Linked DNA regions of Homo sapiens: region 2 is linked to region 1. Evidence: fine-mapped expression QTL. Tissue or cell type: monocytes. Region 1 holds a variant in brackets; the other region holds the start of a gene. All regions are shown on one strand. Distances are between the middles of the regions.

What was found. PIP is the estimated chance that this variant, and not a neighbour inherited with it, causes the effect.
Region 2: PYROXD1 starts here. The variant in region 1 is fine-mapped to the expression of PYROXD1 in monocytes (Quach 2016, PIP 0.94).

Annotation. Positions count from the first base shown.
Region 1 is chr12:21,470,473-21,478,472 of GRCh38, forward strand. It overlaps PYROXD1 (pyridine nucleotide-disulphide oxidoreductase domain 1), which reads left to right. Exons shown (of 12, transcript NM_024854.5): 12 at 1-778. RECQL (RecQ like helicase) reads right to left here. Exons shown (of 15, transcript NM_002907.4): 7 at 7,331-7,497; 8 at 6,439-6,520; 9 at 5,204-5,352; 10 at 4,996-5,113; 11 at 4,369-4,507; 12 at 3,079-3,170; 13 at 956-1,175; 14 at 497-626. Among named protein-coding and RNA genes, the nearest start is that of RECQL, 27 kb to the right of the region's middle. The variant T/C (reference allele first, on the strand shown) is at 3,538.
Region 2 is chr12:21,434,445-21,442,444 of GRCh38, forward strand. PYROXD1 (pyridine nucleotide-disulphide oxidoreductase domain 1) reads left to right here and starts at 3,211. Exons shown (of 12, transcript NM_024854.5): 1 at 3,211-3,370; 2 at 5,924-6,004. The coding sequence starts at 3,287. RefSeq lists enhancers at 3,040-3,119, 3,170-3,359.

The DNA.
Region 1 (8,000 bases):
TAGTTTTTTATCTACAAATTTCTATTCAAATATGAGCTCTATTTTGAATAAAAGGGGCTACGTTGTGAGAGAAGTTCTAAAGACCTCAAATGTCCTTAGACACAATGGCACTTGACTTGACATGCTTTTGCAGACTTGATAGTATTTGGTTTAAAACAGTGGTTTCTAACCACTGGAACAGCAGAAACAGACTTCTCAACTATTAGTAATCACAACCAAATAAGAGCAGAGTGCATAACAAAATTAGATATTCAAACGGAGTCCTCCCATTCCAAGAAACTGGAAACCCCTAGTTTATGTTAAAAGGCCAGTCTAAATTCTTTCACTTACATCTTTACAGAAAACTATATTTTCTCTCTTCCATACCCAGAAATCTAATCAGAAAACTGACTTTTCTCATGTTCAACTGGACCTAGGGGAATATGACAGAAAAGCATCCCATAGGCTTTAATATACTTTTTAAAATATATAAAACTGAAAATTAATAGCCATTTACCCTGAAAGAGTTCTGCGTGGACTTTGTCACTTGCATAGTAATAGCATGTGCCTCATTGTTCAGAAGATTAGCTTTAGGTCCTATTTTCAAATACGAAATGGTAGCATAAGCTGTAAAACTGTAGTCTTCTCTGCAGAAAATAAAGGCCAACAATAAGAAAGCTTTTGAAGGAATCACGGAAAACAAATTTATAAAAGAAATAACTATATGCGCAGTAATTCTTAACACATTGACTTGAAATAATAAAATTTACAAGAATGCAAATAAAGCCTTTAAAGAAAATATTTTCGTTACTTTTTTTTATTTATAGTGATTAAAGTTTGAGTGTTTTAGGTAAATTACTTTCTATAGCATTTAAAAGTTCACACAAAATAACTGCAAAACCGTTTATTCTGTTGCAATTTTTAAAAAAAAACCATAAAGACAACCTGAAAGAATAATGAATGAGTTTGTACATACTTAAGATACTGCTGTATTAGAAAGTGTGCAATAATCTTCTCCAGATCTTCACGAGGAAGTGTGGGAGCCACAACACCTGCTACTCTCAGTTTTGCTGCACCCTTTCCCATCCAAGAATCAATCAGTTTCAATGGAGTGAGTTTTTCATTCAGTTCCTCTGCCTGCTTCAGGATCTTGATTAGATCTCTGCAGTACTCTGTTATGTTCTTTCTTTCAAATGCTGTAATAAAACAAATATGGTAGCAGGTAATTAGGATTTAGAAATGAGGGCAAAGATAGGCTATCTTAAGTAGTTAAACTGGTTTAAAGCTGGTTATCAATGTGAGCCACCCTAAACATTGATTTTTAAATGTATTCTGAATTAAGACTAGGCTATTCCTCAAGTCTCTGTCACTAGACCAAGTTATGGTCTCTGTAAGCATTGTGGGGTTTACAGTGATATATATAAAAAAAAATTGGTTATCAGAAGCCCTGCCATATACTCTAGAAATCAGAAAGTGTCTGCCAGACATGATTACTAAGTTACTAAGAGGTGTGTTTTATAGGAGACCCTGTCTGTTCTAGTATAGGCTCCTGAGTGAACTCTGATTTAGCAACAAGAATGTCCTCAACTGATAACCCAATTATTAAGAGACCAGTACTCTGATTTATATATAACACTCTTGTTATTTTATAAGATAGTCTAATAAACTCATAAATTTCTCTGTCTGCAAAGTTAAAAATACAGTGGCTTCCACCTAACAAGGCATCAGAACTCAGTAAGGTCTTACCATGAGGTACTGGCTAGTCCAGATCTTGAAATACAACACACGGATGAAAAAAAGTTAAAATATAGTGCCAAAATGCTGCAGGCAAATCCGAAAATTGGGACTCAGCCCAGGAGGGTTCCCAGTTTCATGCAAGAAACAATCTGAGAGCAAGCCAACAGAGTAAAGTGAAAGCAAAGCAAGTTTATTAGCAATAGAGTATAGGAAAATGGCGGCTCCATAGACAGAGCAGGGCTACCCCAAAGGCAGAGTGGCACTGTACATTGCTCACTAGCGGTATTTATAGCTGCTCCTTAGTTATATGCTAAATAAGGGGAAGATTATTCATGAATCTTCTAGAAAAGGTTAGGGAGTTCCTAGAACCATGTAATTTTCGGGCATTGTCACGGCATTTGTAAACTGTCATGGTGCTAGTGGGAGTGTCTTACATCATGCAAATACATTATATTTTCTAGTTCTAACTTGTTTGGGCCAGTTTCTTTGCTATATCTTGTTTTGACCAGATCCTGTTTTGATCAGCAGGGTTGTGACCAATGCTCAGAAAACAAATCCTGCTGATCTACATTTAAAAGAATTTTAAGTAAATCTCCGATGACTAGCCATTAACTGGATCAAAAGTGATTCTCTATAGTCTCTATTTTGCACTAAATTTTCTTTTCAATTAGTGACTATAAAGTATTAGAGATTATCACATGGTTTCCCTTTTCTTATAGAATAGCATTTCTATTCAGAAAAATTCAAATATTTTCCTTCATTTATTAAAAATTTCACATCCTCAGTATAGCAATATAAAATGTGTGCATACACATAAGACTTTTCCTTTTATTCACCTTTGTTTCAAAACTTCATGTTGATAGTTTTAATTCTGGAAAATCTGATTCACACTTTAATCTTTTAAATCCATTTGGAAGTCTAATACTTCTCTCATGTCCCAGCTGTATATACAGTTTTGTGCCACATAATATTTTGGTCGGTGATGGACCACGTATATGCCAGTGGTCCCAAGAGATTATATAATACCATATATTTTTTTTTGAGACGGAGTCTCGCTGTCACCCAGGTTATAATACCATATTTTTACTGTACTTACTCTATGTTTAGATACACAAATACTTAACCATGTGTTACAGCTGCCTGCAGTATGCAGTACAGTAACACGCTGTACAGATTGGTAGCCTAGGATCAATAGGCTATAACATATCACCTAGGAGACTATACCATCTAGGTTTATGTAAGTACACTTTGATGTTTGCACAATGACAAAATCACCTAGTGATGCATTTCTCAGAACGTATCTCTGTCACTAGGCATTATGACTGTATTAGCCTATAAAGGTTTACAAAACAACAAACTCACCACTGTCTTTACAGCAGTTATCGCACATTTTGTTACATGCTTCTGAGTTCCATACTTCATCAAAATGTTGAGCCATCAACACACGACGACATCTGCAAACACATTTAAAGATACAAATTATTAAAGGATATAATAAAGTTTTAAGAATCTCTATTTCAGCTTACATAGTTATATACTGTATTAGCTTCCTATAACTGCCATAATATTACCATAAACTTAGTGGCTTTAAACACATTTATTCTTACATTTCTGTGGTTTAGATTTAGAAGTGTACTATGGGTTTCACTGGATCAAAATCAGAGTGTCAGGTTCTTCTCACATCACACAATCTAAAATAATCTCCCTATTTTAAGGTCAGCTAATGAACAGTCTTAATTCCATGTGCAATGCTACTTTCCTTTTGCCATGTGAGGTAACATACAGGTTAGGAATTAGGACGTGAACATCTTTGGGGGGCCA[T/C]TGTGCCCCCGACATAGGACTTTTTTCCCCACATATTCTTGATAAACACTGTTTAAAAAATTGTCTGAGTTCCATTTTTAAATTCAATGTTTTGCAACTATTAGGAGAATATTCTTGACAGTAAAATAGTTTCTTATATTTTAATAAAGTAGCAATATTTGAGTTGAAACCTTAAAATATGCTTCATGAGACTCTACTGGCCTTTGGAAGACATTTTCATTTTCTCATTTCTTTTAACTAGATTATTGTAGTATCTATTGGAAAGAAAGAACATTTCTATCACTGTCTGGCTGCTATTTACCACCTCGACATTTCTGAGCACTTCTTATGTGATAGGCAATAAAAGCACAAAGATAACTATGACAGAAAGCTTTCAGGAAGCTATCTAGTCTAAAGCCACCCTAAGTAGATTTAAACTTACTTCTTAAGGAGAAACTTGGTATTTCATTGACACATGAGCTGGCAAGGTGGCACGTTACTGAGCTTGACTCTCAAAATGCCTATCTTAACCATAGACCTTTTCAAAATTATTAAATCATGTAACTGTACAGCAGTGCCAGAGAAAAAAAGCCTTCAAGTTGCTATCAATGTGTCTCAAAAACCTTCAATTAAAAAAGTAGTTTTGGAGGATTATCTCAAAGATAGGGCATCTTTTCTTGAACTAAGGCAGATCATACAGGTTGATGTGCTGGTTCCTACCCTCCAACATCTGCTTTTATGGATCTGCACTTTGGTGTTCCACCAATGTATTTAGTAAGAACTTAAAAACGATGTCATATACTTTCATATTTGCTTTAATTGATAAAAGTTATAAAAAGGTATGTGGCTTACTTGCTTATGTTTTGACAGTATGATACCATCTCATAAAGCTTCTGCTGTCCCACATTTTCCATCACCACCATTGAACTTATTCTGAATATATCTCCAAAGCCGTAGTACAAAATACAGTCTGCTTTCATGTCATCTCGACCTGTGGTGTGAGAAACCTTGAGATTGCAGAATTACATTTACAAATTCAAAATATGCAAAAATGACATATGGTAAAATTAGCAGGCAATGTTTTATACTACATCTAGAAATTTTAGAGATGTGGAAGTTAATTTGTAATGGGTACCCTCAAATTAAAAAAAACTCTAAAGAGACATCAATAATCAGCTCTACTAAGTTAAAAAATGTGTCTATAATCCAGTTAAGTTATAGATTTGAAATCACTAATTAAAAATTCAGGAGGCAAAGATGAACATCAAATTATCTTAACACACATAAAAAGAAACAATTCAGATAACAGAACATAAGTAAAAATTTCTCCATATGCAAGTAAGTGTCAAACTGCTAAAAATACATTGTTCTAAAAATACTATCCAATAAAGATAAAACATACAGACTTATTAAGCATTTATCATGTATTTTTTGGAAAAGCTTTCTAAAAATTTACTTCTGGATTTGAGTCCTACATACCTGCACGTCCACTCTCTTGGTAATAATTTTCCATGGATTTACTCATTGAATGATGGATAACAAACCTCACATCTGGCTTATCAATTCCCATACCAAATGCAACAGTTGCCACTACTACCTGAAATATTTTAACATTTTATCAGTTAATTAAATCAAGTTTAAATATTTTAAAGGTAAATTAGGCTTCTATGGAAGATATAGACCTAACCTGAATTTCATTGGCTGACCATTTTCTATGAACTGTGGTCTTATCTTCTGGCTCCAAATTGGCATGGTAAGCACCTGCATGAATTCCCAGATTCTGCAAACTAACCGTAACTTGTTCAGAGTCTTTCTGAGAAAAACAATATATGATTCCTGCAGTAAAATATGTGCATTTGTTAGATAGATATGGCATATTCCTGGAAGATGGTTTTCAACACACACATTCAGGACATTGATTAATACAATGCACAGAAGGAAAAAAAGAATTATGAAAAATTTCAAGGCCTTGTGCATATATTGACATTTTGGTATAATTCCAGATTTGAGCACCAGCTTCCTTTAAAGCAGAAATGAGCCTGAGCCATCAGTTTTTGTTCCTGTTATCTCTTTTCTCTCTTTAACTTTATCTCCCACTAAACAGTATTTCTCAAACTGATGTCTGTAAGATGCTAACAAATGTGCTATGAATGCAGTGTTCTCCAGATTAATTTTGGGTTAATTTAGATTAATTTGCATGCAAATTAATTTGGAGAACATTGCATTCAACAAAGTTAAATGGGTGTCTCTCTTTATTTTCAGGGATGGTCAGAGCTTCTAGTTTGCTGATACACCCTGTGAACATCCAGGCAGAATAAATACCTGCAACCTTTCTCAAATTCATTTGACCCTAGAACTCCTTTTACCCAGGACTACCTCCTGAAAATCTATAGAACAGTTTAAAATGCTACTTTCACACAAATTCTTTGCTTCAGTAACATTTGCTTAGTCATTAAACCCAGAAAACCATGTATATATACTCACAACTCGATCTGTGCTTAATCTATTCAGTATGTACTACTGGATTTATTTATTGCTTTAACGTGTCCTTTACTGTAAGGGAGTATATTTTCTATCCCTTTAGAATATCAGTTGCTTAATCCACTATTTTGTACACAGTGGATACATACTAAATATGTGCTGTTGATAATTAACATTAAGTCATCAGGTCTATTCTAAAGCAAGTGTAAATAAGCAAAAATAAATCAGGCAATTTGACGACTCATAATCTATGGCATAAGCAAATGTCACACCCAATTTCTAAGATCAAGTGAATTAATTTTATCACGTATTTTCAAGTATCTTCTGCTATACATTAATTTTTTTTGGTGTTATTCAGTTATCAGTATAATTATCAATATGATATGAAGTCACTTTTTGAAAGTTATCTCTGTCTCCAAAGTTGGTTTGTTTTTACATTACCTGATTGCCCTTTGTATCTCCCATTAATGAGCTTTACAATATCCTCAATAAAATCTTCAGTGTTTGAGGGCTTCTGCCGAACCTAAAAAAAACTTAACTTATTAAAAAGTAAATGAATGAGTACCATCCAAGTGGCTGTCTATGTACAACTTTCAGGATGCAGTTCTTTCATGACCATAGTGTTTTTTTTCCTATTACTCTTTCACTTACTCACAGGATTCAACCCATCTGACTCATCTGTTCCTCCTCCCAGACTCTTCTTGATCTTTATTTTTTTAATTTACCAGAGAAGAGCAAGCACATGAGCAGTGAATAACTTGCAAGGATGCAGACTTTTTTATTTTGCGATGCTACTTTTATAAAAACAAACCGTAACATAAATAACTCTTTAATGAAAACTCAGAAAAATATTAAATCTATTCTTAAAAGGGTTTAGAAAGAAAGAAAAGACAGCTGTTAGGTTATTTGATTTTCAAGTTTATCAAATAAAATTCAAATAGAATTGGCAAATCTTTAATGGCATATGAATACTTCTATCACTTAGTAATTAATTTGAACAGAGATGTTATTAGGGTCCTTAGTATCACTCCATCCTTTCTCTCCATCTTTATACAAAAAAGAACATACAGAAATTTAACAAAGATATATGACTTACTCATATGTTTTATAAAAAGTATCACCTAGCAGGTGTCTTCCATTTAATCTAACAAAGGTTTATGTAGCAAAAGATACATGAATGAAGCCCTAATCACAGAATCTACTTATAATTACCTCCTAATGTTAAAAATTTTTGTAAGTACTTAACTGCTCATGTAAATAAACATAATAAAAAGGCAGATCCCCTCTGCGTAATTCTTCACAAAAGTAAGGAATTGACATAAAAATTACATACCTCATAATATAGATTTGGCCTATTAAAAGAAGCTGTAAAAGTAAAACACTTTTCAATGCACAAAATTTTCTGAGCATCCGTCAAAACGTGATTTGTTGCAGTTGCAGTCAGCCCAATTAGTGATGCGTTAGGGAACTGCCGCTTTAAGATACCAAGTGCCTTATAATCTGAAAAAACAAACAAAGTGGCCCTTTTTCTATCCTTTAAGAGTTAGAGTAAATTATATCTTTTAACATTATGCAGATAATCGATGACTACTATGATTTTGTTTCCACAGCCATCTATAGCAGTAAATTTGCAGTTCTGTGTTAGCCTCTTTGATGGGCAGGCTTTATTACGTTTATTTCAGACATTACTCTTGGTCACGGTGGACTCAAGAGACAGTGGGTATAGCCACAGTGTTTTAATTTATTACAACTAACAAAAGATAAAACAGGCCATCAGACAAACCCCTGCTACCACCTAGTGTCATCAGACCAAAAAAATCTTGGTAAGGGCGGCACTGCTTTGTATATAACCTATTTCTCGGAAACCATTCTAGGCTCAAACTTGTTATAAGCATCTACATCACTAGATAAATTGTCACTTAAACTATTTGGAGGAAACTGAAAAAAATGTGGTAGAAATTGCTTACATGCTAAGTAGAGGACTACTATGAAAACAAAGAGGA
Region 2 (8,000 bases), 36 kb before region 1:
GTTATATGAACTAACAAAACAAAGAAGAGGTTTCGAGTGCAAGATGAATCCAGGCTGTACTTACAGCGAATTGGCAAAAACCAAGATAAAAATGAGAAGATATCCAAGATGTTTCAGAAATTTCAGGCTTGAAGATTCAGAGTAGATTGCATGAGAGATAGACATTTGGGAGTTAAAAGCATAATAGGCTTGTTAAGGTTATGATCATAGATAAAATCCTTTAGACAGAGAAACATAGTCTATTCAACAGGGCACAGGCAGGCAACTTAACCATTAATCCTACTAAGAGGCACGCACTATGCTAGGAAGTTTAAATATGTTGCCTCACACATGCATCAAAACAACTCTACAAAGTAGATCTTATACCCGTCTTGCCAATGAGGAAACTAGGGTTCAGATGAGGTAAATAACTCACTGAATGGTCACACAACAAAGAAATGCTGGTGCCACATTTGAACCTAGGTCATCTGACTCAAAAGCTATTAATCACCAACTATGAAATGTCATTATTCATTCCCAATTTTTGCAGTTGAAAATTAACCTCAATACTCCTATTCTAGGCATTTCTGATATCAACTTGAAGAAGAATGGAAGACTAGATTTTGATGGTAGTTTGAAAGTTGGGGATGGCCTTCAAGAGATTAGGTGGGTATGGGAATCAGATGTAACAACATTATGGAGAGAAATAGAAGAAGATAGCTTTATCTCCTTCAGTTTTTCCACATGAATCTTGAACTCCCCAACCACTTTTCTTTCTTTCTTCCCTTTTACCATCTCCTGTATTTCCCATGCTCATTCCTGCTGCTAAGCCTTTGGTTCTTGGGATATTTCCCACATGACTTGCCACATCTTCTTCTGAACCTATCCAAATGCTATGGGCCTTTGAGATTCAATATAAATTCCACTTCTTCTCTGAACCTTTCTTTGCCAAGTCCTGCTTTTCTTTTCCACCCATAAACATACACCATAATATTTAGCAATACACTGGTATTTCTTTGACTCCTCAGAAACAGTCACCAGGTCACTCCTAAGCTTGCTGACCAGAGCTAAAGGGGAGCTGAAGTTCTGTCTTTTCTGCTTCTCTGCTGCTTCCTGGCATTGGGCCTCCCTTATTTCTAGGTGCCCAGTTTTCTTTGCAGTTGCCCTTTCTCCTAACCTGTACCTATTGCTGCCCTCCCTGTGGATAACATGTTTCAAGTTACCTACATCTTACTTTTAACCCACTTTACATCCAGTATATGTATCTAATTTAATCAACATTAAGGTGAGATGCACTGAAAGTTCTTTAACCCTTAGACATTTCTAAAAGTTGGATATTCATGCCAGTGTGGCAGGCAGCTAGGTCTTATCCCTACATCACCTTTGACAAAAAAGCCAGCCTTCACAAGGGGAAGAAAAAAGGAGAGTGTGGAGTCATTACCCCTTTACATTTGAGGAGCCTCCTACTACTTTGCTTCCCCTCCCACAGACGATGATCTCCTTCCGTTTCCCCTGGGAGCTTAAATTCCACTCCATTCTTCCTTCCGACTTCCATAAAGAGGAAACCCCTGTCACAATATACAAGAGGATCCTGACCCTGGACAATGAATCTAAAAATCTTTAGAAGGACTTCAGGGGAGTTTCATGCTCCACCAACTTCCTATTTCGTTGAGCACATTTTTGTTGAATACATACTCCCTACTAAACATTGGAGATACAAAGGGAGACAAAAATAATCCCTGAGATTATGTAAGCAGTTTATGGTGGTGGTGGGGTCAGGCAGTAAGAATTTACAATAAAGTGGGATAAGTCTAAATTTAGAGGATGACAAAGTGCTATAAGAACACACGGAGAGGACACCTAGCTGTCTTGAGGATGTTAGATAAAGTATCTTAAAGGGGAAGCAATGGCTTGATGAAACCAAAGGTTGATGAGTTAGCCAGGGAAAAGTAGTTGGGAAAAAGATATGTGCAAATGCTCAGAAAGAAAATGGCATATCCTGGGATCTGGAAGTGTAGTGTGGCCTGAATGGAACACAGTGTGAGTGAGATAATGTGAAAATAAGCTGAAGCAAGATGAGATCTAAATGGGCTTAAGGAATGTATTTCCTCCTCCTAGAAATGAATGCTTTGTTTGGTTGCTATACTAGTAACAGGAATTAGACACGTTTATTAAACCGCTTACCATTTAACTTGGTAAATCAAAGAACAATGATTTTTACAGGTATCAGTAAATGCCTGTAATTAGATACGTGGTAGGCTTTCCTGTTAATATATAATGGTTATTCTCAGTGTTTAAAGAATTAAAGGGACTCGGGTAATTACCAGTTTTAGAGTGAACCATTTGAGAGATAATACCTTACCATTACAAAACAACTCCTAGGGAAAGTTATATGAGACAGCAAAGGTAATAGTAAATAGTAAAATAATATGAATAGTGAATAATATAGTAAAAACAGTTAAAAATGATTTAGCAATTTCTTAAAAACAATTGACCACGAAAAAAATTCACAGTAAAACCGAGACTGGGAATATTTCATTCAACCCTCACACATGCTGCTATTGACTGGAAATTTAAGAAATGTTCATTTGTTTTGACAAAATGGAAAGCAACTGTACATTCTTCCTGGAAACTTTAGCTGAGGTCAAAGTTGTAAATGAAAAGGATGATTTTTTAGAGAACAATTCAGTAGTATTGTTTTGCCTTGTCATGAAGAATTTTTGTGCTTCCACAAACAAAAATCTTGGATTGTTAGGTGAACGGTGGCAATCAAGTGGTTTTCAGAAGACTCAAGTTTCTTCATCTACAAAAATGACAGGAGTGGGGTCAGGATGTTCCCGAAGGCTCCTTCTACTCATAAGAGCATAAAATCTGTGCCTCTAATTTCTCGCAGAAACAAATAATGAGAACTTCACACCAATTCATTTATTATATGAATGTTTTGTCCCGTGAGAACACTGGTCTATCTTTAGATATGTAATTTATCAAACTTCTTTGGGCAACCCATCTTCTTTACTTTTTTATTTTTAATTTTTTGGTTTTCTCTTTGTCAAATTTTCATGGAATAACTACATTCAGGTGTAGTAATAGTAACGCAAAGCTCTGAACACCACGAGACAATTCGTTGCTTCCGAAACGCAGCCGGCAGCAGGTACTCGAGATGAGTAGTGTGAGCTCCCGAGCACCCGTAGGTCGGATTATCTGGTAAGGCACCGGAAGTGACCGCCTCGCGGCTGCTTCCTCTCCTGGAGTCCAGAGTCCCGTTGCTCCGCCGCGATATTCAGTAAACCACTGGGAGTCCGGCAGCATGGAGGCAGCGCGCCCTCCCCCGACGGCAGGGAAGTTCGTGGTGGTCGGCGGCGGCATCGCGGGCGTCACTTGTGCGGAGCAGGTAGGGCGGTGCTCAGGCGGTTCCGCCTCTTTCCCCGACCCCAAAGGGGATAGCACTGGAGGCCTTCCTCCCACCCCCTCCCTTTTTCTTCTTCCGGGTTCCTTTTTTGCTGCGCCCTTTTCCGCACTTATTGCTCCCAGATTTTAGAAACTGCTTGGTGGTCCTCAGATGACCTCACTAGCTTTCTCTTAGGCGCAGGGAGGAGTGGGAGGCAAATTATAGCCGAGAAACCAAAGCTGGCTGATCCGTGCTCAGATCCTTGTAATGTCAGAGCAGACATGAGGACTTTGTATTTAGACAAAAAATTCAGCCCCCTTTCTTTTTATTTTTTTTTCTTTTTCTTTGAGACGGAGTCTCACTCTGTCGCCCAGACTGGAGGGCAGTGGTGCGATCTTGGCTTAATGCAAGCTTTGCCTCCCGGGTTCAAGCGATTCTTCTGTTGCGTCAGCCTGTAGCTGGGATTACAGGCGCCAGCCACCACGCCCCGCTAATGTTTGTATTTTTAGTAGAGACGGGCTTTCACCATGTTGGCCAGGCTGGTCTCGAACTCCTGGGCTCAAGCAGTCTGCCCGCTTCCGCCTACCGAAGTGCTGGCATTACAGGCCTGAGCCACAGCACCCGGCCCTCAGCCCCCTTTGTTAATTATCGTAGGTGATTGAGTTTAGTTTCCAGATAGTTGCCAAGTCTTTAGTGCATCTTAACTAATTAATAAAGAATCCCATATGTAAGTTTTCTATACTTCGAACTCCCAAGATAGAAGAAACTTTATTTCTAGTAAAGTTTTGTAAAATAATCAGCGAAGGATTAAATGCATGTAGGGCTTGCTTTCTTGATTATACTGAATAGCCAGACCATATATATTCAGATACATGTGTGTATTCCAAAAAGTTCTACATTATTTTGTTGATATAAAGTAAACATGAGCAATCACTGAAGTCATAAGAAATAGTGGAAGAAACTCAAGTGTTTCCATCGTTGGATGCGTATTTTCCGTTTATTCACTAAGTAAACATATATGATGCAGGCACCGTATTAAGGGCTGAGTGTTCAACTATGAACAGCATGGTATATACCATGCTGGGGACTCACAGCCTGCTGGAAGAGACAATATTACAATATTGTATGTCTATGCAAGAGATATCAACGGTTATCTTAGAGGTGCCTGTGGAGTATGTAGGGAGTGAATTAGGGAAGAGGAAATTTTTTTAATCAAAGAAGGTATTTTTAAAATCTCATTATGAAAGAATGAGTGAAAGTTTACCAAGTATTCAAGAAAAGAATGTCATCTCCAGTGGAAAAGCATGGATCATCAGGGAGCAGTAAAGCTTAAAGCATAGATCATAAGGAGTCTTAGCATGCTGAGAACTTAACAAGAATTTACAAGTAGTCAAATGTTTTTGAGCAGTGGAGTAACTTGATCATATGAAAAGGCTTGAAAGATGATTAGTTACAATGTATTTGTGGCAGAGGCAGCTGGTTTATACGTGAAACTGGAGAGCCAATTCGAAGGTGATTTCAGTAGTATAAAGAAGTTTTGAGGACCTCATCTAGCAATGGAAACAGCAGAGATATAAATTACAGAATATACAGAGGAAAGAAAGATGGAGAGAGTAATGATATTGTCAAATATAGAAAGTTCAAATAAAATGAGACTGAGAAGAATCGCATGGGTGTTGGGCACGATAGCTCACACTTGTAATCTTAGAACTTTGGGAGGCCAAGGTGGGAGGATTGCATGAGTCCAGGAGTTTGAAGCCAGACTGGGCAACATGGCAAGATCCCATCTCCATTAAAAAAAAAATAAATAATCCCTTGGATTTTAAGGATTCATAGATCCCTCAAACATGCTGTTTTAGTGATGGAGTAGGAATAGAAGCCAGATTATTGAGGGTGGTGGTGTCGAGGAACCAGACTTTGAGATAAGAAAATGCTTTCAGGTACAGAGTGAAGAAGACCGAGGTTGTAGCTAAAGGAAAATAATGAAACATTAACAAGTTATACCTCTAAATTTTGTGGAAGCAATTATTAAAATGGCTTTATCGTCCCACAATATGTACTGACTGGAAGAGGCAGAATAGGAGTGCCAGAGCACCTGGGGAAAGTTAGACCAATATTCTAAGTGTTTAATATTGAGGGTTTGCTTTAATTTCATCCCATTGAAGACAAATGAAATATTATTTTAAGATAAATAGAAGTTGGTTTAACTGGTAATTAGGAAGATAGTTTATTCTCATCCTCTGCATTATAACTCTAAATTGGTATAAAAAATAGTTGAAGTAAATAAAGGATATTTCTTTATATCACTTTTCTTGTTCAGGAGTTCTTTGTTAGTGTTTACTGTAAATATTATTTTCTCAGTATCAGAGTTTAATATTATTCACCATTGCCCCATCAAGACCAAGGATAATGGAGACCTTTAGATGAGGAACAGTGGGTTTTTAATTTTCTAGATTAATTACATTATTAAAATTGCATTATTCTCAACCCCAAACCATATATACCAGTACTTAAAGTAATTTGTCCTAATTTTTTTTCTCTCTTTTTAAAAATAAGTTGGCTACTCACTTTCCATCGGAAGATATTCTCTTGGTAACAGCTTCTCCTGTTATTAAAGCAGTTACAAATTTCAAGCAGGTAAGAACCTTTGTATAACTTGTTAATATTAATTTGAAAAAATTGCAATAACTTGCATAGCAGTTAGGGTAATTGTGTATTTTTTTCTTTCTTAAAAATTGACAAGTACAGTTATATGCTGTACAACATGATGTTTTGATACATGTATACATTGTGGAATGGCTAAGTCAAGCTATTTAAAATCTTTCCAATTTGGATGCCTTTTATTTCTTTCTGTCACCTAATTTAATTGCTCTAGCTAGGACTTTAGTACTGTGTTGAATAGAAGTTGTGAGAGTGGGCATCCTTGTGTTGTTCTTGATCTTGGAAAAGCTTTCAGCTTTTCTCCATTCAATATATTATTAGCTATAGGCTTGTATATGACCATTTTTTTGTTGTGGTACTTTCCTTCCATACCTAATTGTTGGGTTTTTATTATGAAAAGACGTTTAATTTTGTTGAATATTTTTTCTATATCTGTAGAGATGGTCATGATTTTTGTCCTTTGTTCTGTTAATGTGGTATATCACATTTACCGATTTGCATATTTTAAGCCATCTTTGCATCCCTGAATAAATCCCACTTGATTATGGTGAATTGATTGCTTTTTTTTGAGATGGAGTCTCACCCTGTTGCCCAGACTGGAGTGCAGTGGCACGATCTTGGCTCACTGCAAGCTCCGCCTCCTGGGTTCACGCCATTCTCCTGCCTCAGCCTCCCAAGTAGCTAGGACTACAGGCGCCCGCAACCATGCCCAGCTAATTTTTTGTATTTTTTAGTAGAGACGGGGTTTCACCATATTGGCCAGGCTGGTCTGGAACTCCTGACCTCGTGATCCATCCACCTCGGCCTCCCAAATTGCTGGGATTACAGGTGTGAGCCACCGCGCCCAGCCTGGAAAGTTTTCTGTTGTTATTTCTTTAAATACATGTTCTACTCCTTTGTCTTTCTTGTCTCCTTCTATAACGCCTATAATTCAAAGATTTGCTCATTTGATGCCATCCTTTAATTCCCTACTTCTATGTTCTTTTTCATTCTTTTTTCTTCTTCTTCCCTTCTGACTGTATATTTTCAAATAATCTGTCTTCAGATTCACAGATGTTTTCTTCTGTGTGATCAGTTCTCTTGTTGACATAGTCTGTTGCATTTTTTTTTGTTTCATTCATTGCATCTTTCATCGTCAGAATTTCTGCTTTAGTTTTTAAATAACTTTTTAAATTTTTTGTTTTGGTTGCTTATTGTTTTTCTGATTTAATTGAATTGTTTGTAACTTCTTGAAGTTCCTTCAGCTTCTTTAAACAATTATTTTGAATTCTTAGGCAGTTCTGACATTTGTGTTCTTTTGGTGGCATATCTTCTTGGTTTATCATGTTTCTTACTGCCTTATGTTGATGTTTGCACATTTGATGACACACTTGCTGTTTTCAGAAGTATGGGCTAGTTTTGCTGTGGAAAGACCTTCCCCTATGGGGAGGGCTGCTTGCTAGATGGGATGTAGCAGTTCTGGCACCAGTGAGGGTGCCCACTTTGTAGTCTGTGCAGCTCCGTCAGCTGAGTTAATTGTTGTTGAAGATTGCAGGGATCCTCAGCATCCAACTCTGGATGTCTGCAGTGGTAGTGAGGGTTGTTGGGGTTTTCAATGTCAATGGCTGCTAATAGCCTCCCAATCTTTTCTTCTCCCACAAAGGAAGTTGTGGCTTAGGGGATCCCTGTTGGCACTGAGTCTGCCTTCTGGGTTCAGTGGCAGCAGCGCTGGTGTCTGATAAGTGGTGCCTATGGAGCAGATAGAGCTGAGGCCCAAAACACAGGCATACACGGAGGAATTAAAGTTCTGGGATCTGGGACTGTAATGATATTGGTGCCTAGGGTGCAGGTACCCGTACTGCTATATTGGTAATAGAATATGAGGTGAGGATGCTTGTGAGGCAGCCAGGGAAACCAAGAATGGGAACACATGTGTGCTCAGAGTTACAGCAGCTTCAGTGTCAGGGCAGGGCCTAGCTTTCAATGGCAGCTG